Linked DNA regions of Homo sapiens. The protein of the gene in region 2 purifies or fractionates together with the protein of the main gene of each other region. This does not show direct contact. Each region holds a gene or a part of one and is shown on either strand. Other genes may lie near its edges.

Region 1 (7,964 bases), on a different chromosome or scaffold from region 2:
CCCTATTCTAGTATGTCCTCCTCTTAGCTACTTACAGGCATCACTGTAAGTCCAAATAAGGTCATATTCTCAGGTCCTGAGGCTTAGAGACAGCCCCGATGGCCACGGTGCCACTGTGTGGATGAATCTCTCGCACAACCCCGAGGAGAAAAAGACAGAGGCCCGCCTGATGCTCTTCCTCTCCCCCTTCCCTTCACTGTCACAGTAGGTTCCCTGGGTAGGGCAGGTGGAGCAGGATCCACAGTGGCCCAGGCTGGGCTGTCGGAGCCTGGCTGGGTGAGGAGGGTGAGGGTATGTGGCTGAGGCTCAGAGCTGTTTGCAGGTGCCTGGCTGGGTGAGGAGGGTGCCGGTGTGCGTGGCTGAGGCTCAGAGCTGGATGTCAGAGCCTGAGAAGAAAGAGGGCGGCCCCAGGTGTGGTCCAGCAGAGGGTATCAGAGCCCAGGCAGGAGAAGAAGGTGTCCACCATGAGAGCCTCCCAGGCCAAGCCTGGGAGTGATGACATATTTGCATAGCTTCCAAATACCTCCTACAAAATGCTTGTGTTTTTGTTTTGTTTTGTTTTTCATTTTGTTTTTTTTTTTTTGAGACGGAGTCTCGCTCTGTCGCCCAGGCTGGAGTGCAGTGGCGCAGGGTCGGCTCACTGCAAACTCCGCCTCCTGGGTTCACGCCATTCTCCTGCCTCAGCCTCCCGAGTAGCTGGGACTACAGGCAACCGCCACCACACCTGGCTAATTTTTGTATTTTTAGTAGAGACGGTTTCACCGTGTTAGCCAGGATGGTCTCGATCTACTGACCTCGTGATCCGCCCTCCTCAGCCTCCCAAAGTGCTGGGATTACAGGCGTGAGCCACTGCACCCGGCCAAAATGCTTGTTAATTACGAAGGAAAAAAGAACTTCCCAGTGGAGATGTTGGCAGATACCACCTTAATCAAGAGCTCAAAGTGAACATCATCAGTAACGTGACAACGTGACCACTGTGAGCCACTGACTGGATGGAATGAACAGGCCACGGTGTCACCTCTGCGACTTTCCTGTCCGAGACGTGCAGTGGGAATCTAATCACGAGGACACAGCAGACGAAACCAAATGGAGGGACTTTCTCCAAAGTAATTGGCCCATGACCTTCAGAGGTGTCAGGGTCATGACAGCCAAAGCAAGGCCAAGGAATGTTCTGGACTGAAGGGGAATAAAGAGGTATGTGAGAATTCAGTGCAAAGTGACTCTAGGCTGGATCCTTCCACGCTGGGGCCCTGATGCAATCAACTGGCAAAGCGTGTTTGACAGGCTGAGGGGTAAACACGGCAACAGGCCTGTGTCCTCTCCTGACTCGGGCCATGTGTGGCTGTGTTGGAGAATGTCCTCGTTTGTGGAAAATACACTCTACAAGGGTGGGGGGCGACAGAGCATCATGAAGGCAACTTACTCTCAAATCCTTCACGAGAAGTTTTTTTGTGCTGAGCTTGCAACTTTTATACAAGTTTGGGATTGTTTCAAAAAATGTTAAAGAATGTATGTGGTATTACATAAAGTTTATATATATTATTAAACTTATATAAACCTTATATAATACCACACATATTCTTTAAAATTTTATATAAATAAATTTATATAAAATTTAAAATAAATGAAAGTTGGCTGGGTGTGGTGGCTCACCGCCTGTAATTCCAGCACTTTGGGAGGCGGAGGTGGGTGGATCATTTGAGATCAGGAGTTCAAGACCATCCTGGCCAACACGCGGAAACCCCGTCTATACTAAAAATACAAAAATTAGCCAGGCATGCTATAATCCCAGCTACTTGGGAGGCTGAGGCAGGAGAATCGCTTGAACCCAGGAGGTGGAGGTTGCAGTGAGCCGAGATCGCCCTGCTGCATTCCAACCTGGGCAACACAGTGAGACTCTGTCTCAAAAAAACAAAAATTTAAAGAATATATGTAGTATTATATGAAGTTTAATATATATTATTAAACTTACATAAAACTATATGTGGCATTATATATAGTCTATATATTTATATTATATATTGTTTATATAACACCACATATATTCTTTAAAATTTTATATAAAGTTTATATAAAGTTTAAAATAAGTGAAAGTTAACTATATTGTTTAGGGACACATGCATAGGTAGTAAAACTAAAGAAATTTATATATCATCTTTAAAATTTTATATAAATATAAAGTTTATATAAAGTTTAAAATAAGTGAAAGTTAACTATATTGTTTAGGGACGCATGCATAGGTAGTAAAACTAAAGAAAAAGTCAGCCATGGTCAAGAAGAGCGGGTCTGTGAGTGGCATGGGGGAGAGACTTTGGGGTGCTGATGAGGTTCTATTTCTTAACTTGGGTAGTGGCTACTGATGTTCGATTTATAACCAATCTCTAAGTCGCACATGCGCATTTATGCACCATCGTTATGCAGAGAATATCAGTCCATTTCTTTTCAACTGTGGGCCCTACAGCAGGCCTGCTTACTACCTCAGTACCTGGCTTATGCAGATAAAAGGAGTATTCCTTTAAGAAAAACAAAATACTAGAGGCAAATCAGCTTCCAAAACTAGGTTATACATACTAAAACTAAATGACTTTGGGGCTATGGACCATGCTCTCCTTTTTAGCTAGGCAGACACTCACGAGTCTTAACTGTTCACCAGACAGGCTGGCCCTTGATTTTTGTTTAATGTTTTTGTAAATGTGTTATAATAATACTTTATTATAACATCTGCTGCAAAGTCAGGGGCGGGTCCCTCAACAGAGGCTGTGCCAGCGCCGGGGTTCCCTGAAACGAACCAGGGACTAGAACTATTAACAAAGTCATTTTTCTGGCACAGCTTTCCGGGAAAGGCGTTTCATATGGGACGGAGTTCTGCCTGGGGGGCGGGGGTCAAACCCTTCCAGCTCAGCCCCAGGGTCAAACGCATCCGCCCCCACACCCACCTCTGGCTGGCCTGGGTCCCAGGTTCTCGGGCTCCGGAGGCACAGACACCCCGGGCTGCTCAGGCAGGCGGCGGTCCTTGGCGATTGCCCTCCGCGGCGCCGGCGGCGTGGTTTGGGGCGGGCAGCTCCATGGCAACGGAAGACTCCATCGTGGCCGGAGGGGGAGCCTCGCCCGTTCTGCTCCCCGGCTGGAGCGGGTGGTTTGGTCCGACCCACCACCGACCGCGCGGGCCGGGGCCGGGGCAAGGAGGTCGCGGGCCCCGAGGCGCGGCTGAAGGGCCAGGCCACAGGCCGCGGGGCGGGGACGTCTCCGGGGTCCCAGACAGCCAGGCCTGGCCCAGGGCCAAGGCTTGGAGGTGACAGACAGACTTGGGGGGCCTGGAGGAGCTCAGCACCGGCGCGTTGGCCCAGAGGACCGGGGCGGGTGCATGATGGTTTGGAGTCGTTTGTCAACCTAAAAAACTAGGAGGTTTCCCGTGAAAATGGGGATTTTCCTCTTCTCTTGCAAATGGAAGATCGGGCTGGGCGCGGTGGCTCACACCTGTCATCCCAACAATTTAGGAGGCCGAGGTGGACGGATCACTTGAGGTCAGGAGTTCGAGACCAGCTTCGCCAACATGGTGAAACCCCGTCTCTTCTAAATATACAAAAATTAGCAGGGCATGGTGGCAGCTGCCTGTAATCCCAGCTACTCAGGAGGCTGAGGCAGGAGAATCGCTTGAATCCAGGAGGAGGAGGTTGCAGTGAGCCAAGATCGTACCACTGCACTCCAGCCTGGATGACAGAGTGAGACTCCGGCTCAAAAAAAAAAAAAAAAAAAAAAAGACTTCTGAATGTTATGTTCCAGCAAAGGCTCCAACTGAAAAATTGTAAAAGTAAATAGCAAAGTCAGTGAGCTATGATGGTGCCATCACACTCTGGCCTGAGCGAAATCAAGACCCTGTTTCAAAATTAAAAACAGCAAAAACCCGGTTGGGCACAGTGGCTCATGCCTGTAATCCCAGCACTTTGGGAGGCTGAGTTGGGCAGATCACTTGAGGTCAGGAGTTCGAGACTATCCTGGTCAACATGGTGAAACCCTGTCTCTACTAAAAATACAAAAATTAGCCGGGTGTGGTGGCGCACACCTGCAGTCCCAGCTACCCCAGAGGCTGAGGCAGGAGAATCGTTTGAACCCGGGAGGTGGAGGTTGCAGCGAGCCAAGATTGCGCCACTGCACTCCAGCCTGAACGACAGAGCGAGACTCTGTCTCAAGACAAACAAACAAACAAAAAACAAAACGGAAGATGGGCCCAACATGCCAAGCCGGTTCCGACGTTCCCCATTGCCTTTCCCACAGTCCCCATCCCCCGCTGCCCAGCCCATCTCACTGTGCATCCTGTTACACCGGAGCCTCTTCTCGCACCGCTGGTCCGTGGGGGCCGTTTGCAATGGAGACATGGGAGTGTGAGGAAAGGGAGTGGTCTCTCACCGGGCCACTCTATGCCAAGAACTGGGCTCACGAGTGAATTGGACGCGTCCCCTACCCTGGCAGTCTTTCAGCCCGCCATGTGTAGGGCTTGCAGGGTGGCCGGCTCCTGATGCCACAGTGAGGCCTGGGAGGTCCTTTGGTTTTATCCTGGCCCATAACCTGATCCATCAGAGGCAAGACACCTTGCAGAATGCCCAGCACCCGTGAGAATGGCTGTGGAAAGTAGCTGGGTGACACCACAGCACCTCTGCACTCACCCACCTTCCGCAGTGCCAGATCGCTTTCCTCCTCAGAATCTGAGGAATAGAACCAAGCCACCATTACCAGCCCAGGTTCGCTTTTATAAGAGAGATTATACTTCTTCCCGACTCCACGGAAATGATAGGGCTTCTTCCTTATCAACTTTGCCTCCCTGGACCTTTCCCAATGAACTGTTAATATACTTTCTAGGAAAGGGCCGGGCACAGTGGCTCACGCCTATAATCCCAGCACTTTGGGAGGCCAAGGCAGGTGGATCACCTGAGGTCAGGAGTTCGAGACCCGCCTGGCCAACATGGTGAAACCCCTGTCTACTAAAATACAAAAACTAGCTGGGCGTGGTGGCGCATGCCTGTAATCCCAGCTACTCGAGAGGCTGACACAGGAGAATCACTTGAACCTAGGAAGCAGAGTTTGCAGTGAGCCAAGATCACACTACTGCACTCCAGCCTGGGCAACAGAGCGAGACTCCAACTCTCTCTCTCTCTCTCTCTCTCGTTCTCTCTCTCTCTCTCTCTATATATATATATATACTGTCTAGGAAAGAAGGAAAGGACAGTGACAGCCTGAGAACAGCCCCGTGTCCATGGAACTGGTTGGTTAAGGAAGCTGTGGAACAGCTACACGATGGAGGTCAGCTGTAAAGAAGGTATAAGGACCATTTATTTCTATGTTCTGCTGTGGAGTGACTCCAGAACATATTGTTAAGTAAAAAAAATTGAGCCAGGCATGGTGGCTTGAGCCTGTAGTCCCAGCTACTTGGGAAGCTGCAGGATGGATTGCTCAAGCCCAGGAGTTTGAGGCTACAGTGAGCTATGATTGTACCACTGTACTCCAGCCCTGGCAACATAGTGAACCCCATCTCAAAAAAGAAAAAAAAAATCCAGCCAGGTGCAGCGGCTCACGCTTCTAATCCCAGCACTTTGGGGGGCAAGGTGGGAGGATCGCTTGAGTCCAGGAGTTTGAGACCAGCCTGGGCAACATGGTGAAACTCTGACTCTAAAAAAATACAAAAAAAATTAGCCGGCCATGGCGGTGCACACCTGTAGCCCCAGCTACTCGGGAGGCTGAGGTGGGAGGACCTCTTGAGCCTGGGAGATTGATGCTGCCCTGAGCTGTGACTGTGTCACTGCACTCCAGCTTGGGTGACAAGTGAGATCCTGTCTCAAAAAAAAAAAAAAATCAAGATGCAGAAAAGTGTGTATAGTATTTATGTAAGAAGGAGCAGTGGCAATAAGAATATATATATATTTTTACATTAAAAAGGTTACTATCTGGGGCAGAAGGACACAGGAATAGAAAGTAGATCTCTTTAAATGTGCTTACATTCAGTTATAGAACTGTGTAATTAGAAAACCAAAAATAAATCAAAATAGAAAAGCATCTAAAACTTGGAGACAGAATGAAACAAATGAACCTAATTGTATGGCATGTGGGGGGGTTAGCCATACAAAAAAGGATAATTTTGAGTGACTTTTTATTTTTATTTTTAGACAGAGTCTCGCTGTGTCACCCAGGCTGGAGTGCAATGGAGTGATCTTGGCTCACTGCAACTTCCACCTCCTGGATCCAAGCAATTCTCCTGCCTCAGCCTCCCAAGTAGCTGAGATTACAGGCATGAGCCTCAATGCCTGGCTAGTTTTTTGTATTTTTAGTAGAGATGGGGTTTCACCATGTTGGCCAGGCTGGTCTCGAACTCCTGAGCTCAAGTGATCTGCCCGCCTTGGCCTCAGAAAGTAACTTTTTCAAAGAGACAATGTCTGGCTCTGTTCCCCAGACTGGAGTGCGGCGACTCCATCATGGCTCCCCGCAGCCTCCACCTCCTGCGCTCAAGAGAGCCTCCCACCTCAGCCTCCCAAGCAGCGGGGACTACATGTGTATACCACCATGCCCAGCTAATTCATTTCTATTTTATTTTATTATTATTATTTTTTGAGACAGAGTCTCGCTCTGTCGCCCAGGCTGGAGTGCAGTGGCGCAATGTCAGCTTACTGCAAGCTCCACCTCCCAGGTTCATGCCATTCTCCTGCCTCAGCCTCCCGTGTAGCTGGTCATTTTTATTTTTATTTTTGCAGAGATGAGGTCTCACTATCTTTTCCAGGCTGGTGTAGAACTCCTGGCCTCAAGAAATCCTTGAGTTGCAGTGAGCTGAGATGTGCAACTGCACTTCAGCCTGGGCGACAGAACAAGACTCCATCTCAAAAAAAAAAAAAAAAGAAAAAGAAAAAACAAATAAGTAATACAGGGAAGGTGGTTAAGTTTTGTGTATATTTTACCACATTAAAAAGTTTTAATCAGGCCATGCGCAGTGGCTCACACCTGTAATCCCAGCACTTTGCAGGGCCAAGGTGGATGGATCACTTGAGGTCAGGAGATCGAGACCAACCTGACCAACATGGTAAAACCCCGTCTCTACTAAAAATACAAAAATTAGCTGGGCGTGGTGGTGGGCACCTGTAATCCCAGCTACTCGGGAGGCTGAGGCAGGAAAATCACTTGAACCCGGGAGGCGGAGGTTGCAGTGAGCCTAGATTGTACCACTGTACTCTAGCCTGGGCAACAGTGCAAAAACTCTGTCCAAAAAAAAAATTAAATCAAATAAAATGTAAAATTGCATTCCTCAGTGGCAGTAGCCACATTGCAGGTGCTGAGTAGTCCTCTGTGGCCGGTGGCTACCCCAGTGGACAGCACAGACATGAAACAAGGACCCTCATTCCTGGGATTGTGCTGGACTACAAACGGTCACCAGTCCCGGTGCGAGGAGCACACAGACCATTGTTTCTTCCTGCCATTTCCCTTGAAAAGAAACCATGGCTTCTTGGAAAAATGACGGATTTCAGACATGAGGCAGAAAACATACAAGATGACCCCAGAACATCTCATCATAACAGCAAGCAGGAAAATTAACACAGATTCTAGTTTGTCTCGGAGGATCCATTTGCCAGTTTGAAGGGGCTCTCACTGGCGAAAGTAAGCATCAACTGAGTATCAAAAGGAAAAGTAAATTGCAGTGGATTGAAGCACTTCAAATATATTAGTGTCCACGAGTTCATTCAGCCTGGGCGACATAGTGAGACCCCGGCTCTATAAAAAATAATTTAAAAAAATTATCTGGAGCCGGGTGAAGTGGCTCACGCCGGTAATCCCAGCACTTTGGGAGGTTGGGGCGGGCAGATGACAAGGTTGGGAGTTCCAGACCAGCCTGGCTGACATGGTGAAACCCCATCTCTACTAAAAATACAAAAATTAGCCAGGCATGGTGACAGGTGCCTGTAGTCCCAGGGACCCAGGAGGCTGAG
Region 2 (6,674 bases):
TGTCTGTCAGGTAATATTGCAACACACTGACCAAAGTAGATTTAGATGACTTGTTATTTGCTTTATGTTTTATATTCATAGTAAAAGACATAGAAAAGTGCCAGTGCATTTATTCCAGGTATTTCCATTTTAGAAAAAGAGGAAGTTTATTTAATCATGAACTAAAAAGGACAAGCCAGCTGTACTATTTTTACCTGAAATGAATAGGCTATGTAGTCACAGTGCTACAGCAAACGACTTTAGCTCAGGTCTGCAAGCAGTAGATGACAGCACATCACTTTCTTTTAATTCTTTATGTAGTCATGCAATTCCCACTGGAATATGTACGCAGATAGAGCCATAATCTCAGATTTAATGCCATGGAGGGCATTATCAGGTATTTAATTTATAAGTAATAAGAAATTCTGCAAATAAAGATATTTTTGGCATTCTTTAATTGCAGGGTAACTGAAATGGCTAAAAAAAAAAAACCCATAAAAGGTATTTAGTATTTCATCTTATTATTACTTCTACAAAATTTCTGTTTTTGTATGATAATGTTTATTTGAAATTATGTATCACAGATAAGACCAGAGGTAGAAAACAGCACGCCAAATAACAATCCTCAAACAAAACAGAACAAAACAAACAAACAAACAAGGAAACAAGACCACACATACTTACAAACTCTCCTGAACCAAGTATGTTCAAGAATTAATAAGTTGCACCCCTTACCCCCATCCACTCATGAGGCTCTGGAAAAAGTCGTGCCTTTTAGCTTTTTACAGTCTAAGTATGCTCTCGGCATCTAATGAGCTTTTTAAAAGCCAGCTTAAAGTCTTCATTAAAACTCGTATAGAGCAGAGGGTTGATCAGAGAATTCACATAACCGAGCCACGTCAGAAAGTCGGCCACTTCCGAGGACACGGTGTAGATGCTCAGACCCACAATCAACTCTTTGATGAAAAATGGCAGCCAGGATAAAATGAATGCACCCAGAATCAGCCCCAGGATGCGTGCTGCCTTCCGTTCCCTGGTGCTAGAGATCTGCTGACGTTCTCCTGGGTGATCTAGATCATTGTCGAAGGGGGGGATCCTGATGGAGGCATGGAACTTTTCAAACTCTGTGGTAGGGTCTGAGGTGGAGAAGTCAGACACACAGAAAGTCTGTGTAAGTTTACAACTTGCAAAAGAATTCTGGCTATCTGTGCTTCTGTTGCTTAAGTGCCGACTTGATCCCCTTTTCTGGTAAAGGCTCTTGGCCGCGTGGTAAATCCGGTAATAGAGAATCAGTATCAAAGTCAAGGGGATATAAAACGCACCCAGCGTGGAGTAAATGGTGTAGATAACATGGTCGTGCTGGATGGTGCACTGACTAGGGGGAGGGCTTAGGCGGCGGTGGCTTCTCCAGAACAGAGGGGGCATGGAGATGAAAATGGAGATGGTCCAGACGGTAAGGATCATCAGCGCGGCCCTCTTGGCCGTCCTCTTCCTGGCGTATTCAATAGCATTGGTGATGGCCCAGTACCTGTCCAGGGCAATGACACAGAGGTGGAGGATGGAGCAGGTGCAGCAGGTCATGTCCACACTCAGCCACACCTCACAGAGGAAGTACCCAAGCTTCCAGCGATCCATGACAATGTAGATGATGCTCAGGGGCATGACGAGCACTGCCACCAGGAGGTCCGTCACGGCCAGAGAACAGATTAGGTAGTTGGCAGGCTGGTGGAGCTTCTTGGTGGTGCCAATAGCCATGATCACAGCCAAGTTCAGCAACGTGGTGAGGGTGGTGATGACCACCAGAGTCATGCAAATGAGCATCTTCTCAGTGATGGTCTTGGGTCTTATAGCCATGCTGGCCTCTGTGGTACAGTTTGTGATGTTCATGTTTCCCTTGTTTCAGTCTACACTGTGGAGAAGCTGTTGGTTATTTTCCTTTGGCTGAAAACTATGTAGCCTCGAAGGTTTCTCACTTGTAAGGAGGCTATAATTTGTTCAGCTATGTGGTCTCTTGTGTTCCATTTTCTGTTGGTAAAGGGAAGGGCCACAGCATTTCTTCTGAGTGAAGGTTCCTGGAAAATATTATGCTATTGGTTAATGAATGAGAAAGCCACACTTTTCCTGGAAAACATGAAAATAGTTTGATATTTATAAATTCTTTATAAATTTTAATTTTCTCTTTCCTGTGGAACTTGAGCTCATCGTTACATTGTTCCTCAAAGGATACTTTTTTTACTTCAGGGAAGTTTTCAAACTGTTTTTTTTTAAATTATACTTTAAGTTCTGGGATACATGTGCAGAACTTGCAGGTTTGCTACATAGGTATACATGTGCCATGGTGGTTTGCTGCACCCAACAACCAATCATCTACATTAGGTACTTCTCCTAATGCCATCCCTCCCCTAGCCCTCCACCCCCCAACAGGCCCTGGTGTGTCATGTTCCCGGCCCTGTGCCCATGTGTTCTCATTGTTCAACTCCCACTCGTGAGTGAGAGCATGTGGTGTTTGGTTTTCTGTTCCTGTGTTAGTTTGTTGAGAATATGGTTTCCAACTCATCCATGTCCCTGCAAAGGACATGAACTCATCCTTTTTTATGGCTGCATAGTATTCCATGATGTATATGTGCCACATTTTCTTTATCCAGTCTATCACTGATGGGCATTTGGGTTGGTTCCAAGTCTTTGCTATTGTGAATAGTGCTGCAATAAACATACATGTCCATGTGTCTTTAGAGTAGAATAATTTAAAATCCTTTGGGTATATACCCAGTAATAGGATTGCTGAGTCAAATGTTATTTCTGGTTCTGGAACCTTGAGGAATCGCCATACTGTCTTCCACAATGGTTGATCTAATTTACACTCCCACCAACAGTGTAAAAGCATTCCTATTTCTTCACATCCTTTCCAGCATCTGTTGCTTCCTGCCTTATTATTATTATTATTATTATTATTATTATTATTATTATACTTTAAGTTCTAGGGTACAGGTGCACAACATGCAGGTTTGTTACATATGTATACATGTGCCGTGTTGGTTTGCTGCATCCTTTAACTCGTCATTTACATTAGGTATTTCTCCTAATGCTATCACTCCCCCGTCCCCCGACCCCACGACAGGCCCGGGTGTGTGGTGTTCCCTGCCCTGTGTCCAGGTGTTCTCATTGTTCAATTCCCACCTATGAGTGAGAACATGTGGTGTCTGGTTTTCTGTCCTTGCGATAGTTTGCTCAGAATGATGGCTTTTTAATGATCACCATTCTAACTGGCGTGAAATGGTATCTCATTGTGGTTTTGATTTGCATTTCTCTAATGACAGTGATGATGAGCTTTTTTTCATATGTTTGTTGGTTGCATAAATGTTTTCTTTTGAGAAGTGGCTGTTCATATCCTTCGCCCACTTTTTGATGGGGTTGTTTGTTTTTTTCCTATAAATTTGTTCAAATCGTTTTTGACAAAAACATCACAAAATTTTAAATGTACTTTGCCACCCCAATTAATTTCTTATTTATATTTATTCTTTTATACATGTTTATATATAAAAAGGCTTTTTTTTACATTTGAAAATATATATTCATATTATGTAACATTAAACATTCTGGGGCCGTTAAAGAAAAAATTATATTGCTTATAATAAGCAGCTTTCAAATCAGATTTTAAACTTTCACAGTAAATATGCTGGCGTGGTGGCTCACACCTGTAATCCCAGCACTTTGGAAAGTTAACTGCAATAATCAGAGCTAAAAATGGATACATCCTATGAGGAGTTGATGGAGGACCTTTTTGGGGATTTGTAACTTTAAATTTCCACTTTATTGTGACATAAAAAATATCATGAGTCCAAGGCCATATTTAAATTGTTTTTCATAAAAATTACAAATAGGAGAGAATTACTCTAAACCAAACTGGTTAGTGTACGCTGCTCCTCATTTCCAGGGATACTCTAGAGCCTCTGCTTTATACCATCCCAGTGAAGGTCAGAGCACCAGGGAGATGAGGTTATAGGGATGATAGATGTTAAGGCCGACTTTGGCATATTATTCTTCTGGGGCTTTGTCCTTTGCAGCAGATGAAGAGGGACAAGAATCTCTTTCTCATCCAGGAAGAGTTTCCAAAGCACCTAAGCATTATCAAGAAGGAGGAGTCAGCTGGCACCTGCTCATCTTAAAAATTATCTTAAAGAGGGTTTTATATTTTGGATCTGGTTCCTCCATTAGAAAACTGACATTTCACTTCATAAGTCCTGATTTACTTTAACCTAAAAAGTGTGCCTGAGTCAGCGGTTTTGGAGAGAAAGCTTGGAGTGGTGACTACCCACATGGACTCTGAATGCTGACCCTGCCACTTGTCAGCTGCAGTGTAATCCTAAGCATGTTCTTTAACGTTAGCCTGCTTCAATTTCCTCCTCTTTAAATCAGGAATAATGACATCTTTCTCTAAAGTAAGTAGTGTGAAGATCAAATGTGTTAATACACGTAGAAGCTGAGAACAACGCCTAATACATAGTAAGTACTATGTAAGTGTTTGCGGTCATTTGTTATACTAATTTTCCCAGTGATTTTTGCATTGGGTAATGGAGACAGATTTCATCCCACAAACTCTGATGTGTAATAAAAGCCTATTAAAAATAAGTCAACTTAATTTTGTTCTTTCTTTTTTTTCTTTCCAACTTTTATTTTAGGTTTTGAGGGTACAAGTGCAGATTTGTTTCATGGGTAAACTGTGTGTTGCAGGGTTTGGTGTACAGCTTATTTCACCACCTAGGTAATAAGCATAGTACCCAAAAGGTAGTTTTTCAAATCTCACCCTCCACTCACCCTCTACCCTCATGTAGGCTCTGGTATCTATTGCTCCCTTCTTTGTGTTCATGTGTTATTCAATATTTAGCTCCCGGTTATAAGTGAGAACATGTGTCAACCTAATTGCTGCTTCTAAGCTTCTCACTTCTCATGCTTGAGACTTTCTCTAACCCCAACCACACCCCCAAGTCTCTGGAGGATTATTTAGGGCCAAGGCATTGAGGTTTGGTTGGGGAGAGGGGTTTCAGATGTTGCATGCACAGAGAAAGTCCCTGGTAAGATATTTACTGTCCCCCACTCCTACAGTTCTTTCAGATCCCCAGACTGCTTCCGTAACACGCTTAGGAAATGTCCTAAGGTTGGGAACCCCATGCCTAGCCCCTAAGTCCCTAGCCACACCATGCATGTATCCCTTTTTAAAATATTATAGACTCTTCAAGGCACTTCCAGAACTTCTGGCCCAAGTCTTAGACCCCCAGGATCTTTTCTGTTCCTCCATTTTGCGCGGGAAAGGTATGTAGACCATTGGAGAAATTCCTTTCTTCCTTCATTTTTTTTTCTAACCCTTTCAGCCACCTATTAAAAGCTCTCTTTTCCTTTTTTACTTATTTACAAATCTTTTATTAATAAATCTCCTATGGGCTTGGCTTTTGAGAACATAAATAGGGATTACTGTCTGATACTTCCGCTTTCTGAAATATCTGTGAGGTAAGGAAGCATAAACCAGGCCACATGCTTGACTGAAGGAAAGGGAAAAAATAGAAAATAGCATCCAGCCATACATGTAACATTTCTTGTTGACATATTCCCCTTTCCTAGCATTCTTAGAGTTATCTGAAATATGGGACAAATATCCTTACCACAAAGTTTTGCTAAGACTTTGAATTACCAGAAAATATTATATAACGTCTCAACCATTAAAAGTTTAACATGCTGGTGGACCTGGAGCATTCCTGATCAACTCATTTACGTTGCATGTAACCACCATCATTTAGAGAATATTTTCCTGAACTGCTTTGAAGGAACCCAGGGTATACTTGCCTTTCTCTATTTACTTCCCAGCATTTTCCCAGTCAACCTGTGTTAAGTACTGACTTCTGTCCATTCCTAGACACTTCCAGATACCACTTCCCTTTGATAAGTCATTCCCTCCTGCTGCAAGGTTTCTGTTTTGCACATGGCCTCTAAACTGATCCAGGAAAACTGCCCTCAACTCTGTCAGCTTAGCCACCCTCTCTCCTAGCAGCATTTCCTGGCTCCACATGATGTTCTGGGCTGCAATTGCTTTACCTCTTGCCTACCAAAAATTCAGAGGTCACATAGTAGCTATTGCAAATGGAGTTGAAGCTGTCTAAAGTCAATGTATTAAAAGTTTAAGCATCTTAGACCAATAACTACTTTAAAGAAACCACAGAGAATCAAGAAACATGTTAAACTACCTTTTGATTATGCAATCATTGGAATCCAAACTGTAAAAAAATTCACGGGTTAAATCACCCAGTTTCTTAAATAAATTGCAGACAAGGAGGGCGATAAGAAGTGTGGCGTATAGGCCGGCGAGCGCCGCCCGGGAGGCAGCGGCTGGAGGAGCGGACGGGCCCCGCGGGGCCCGAGGGCAAGGAGCAGCCGCCTGCCTTGGCCTCCCAAAGTGCCGAGATTGCAGCCTCTGCCCGGCCGCCACCCCGTCTGGGAAGTGAGGAGTGTCTCTGCCTGGCCGCCCATCGTCTGGGATGTGAGGAGCCCCTCTGCCTGGCTGCCCAGTCTGGAAAGTGAGGAGCGTCTCCGCCCGGCCGCCATCCCATCTAGGAAGTGAGGAGCGCCTCTTCCCAGCCGCCATCACATCTAGGAAGTGAGGAGCGTCTCTGCCCGGCCGCCCATCGTCTGAGATGTGGGGAGCG

Evidence for each region. The genes of interacting proteins can lie anywhere in the genome.
Region 1: the proteins of HTR1E (region 2) and CFAP74 purify together in Homo sapiens (affinity purification with mass spectrometry; 2 studies listed by BioGRID and IntAct, with this or other methods). This does not show direct contact.

The regions. Positions count from the first base shown.
Region 1 is NC_000001.11:2,000,765-2,008,728, forward strand, and holds the start of CFAP74 (cilia- and flagella-associated protein 74), read right to left. Parts: upstream 3,023-7,964; 5' UTR 2,937-3,022; intron 1-2,936. UniProt on the Homo sapiens protein: As part of the central apparatus of the cilium axoneme may play a role in cilium movement. May play an important role in sperm architecture and function.
Region 2 is NC_000006.12:87,010,527-87,017,200, reverse strand, and holds the end of HTR1E (5-hydroxytryptamine receptor 1E), read right to left. Parts: intron 2,052-6,674; 5' UTR 1,867-2,051; coding exon 769-1,866; 3' UTR 522-768; downstream 1-521. UniProt on the Homo sapiens protein: G-protein coupled receptor for 5-hydroxytryptamine (serotonin). Also functions as a receptor for various alkaloids and psychoactive substances.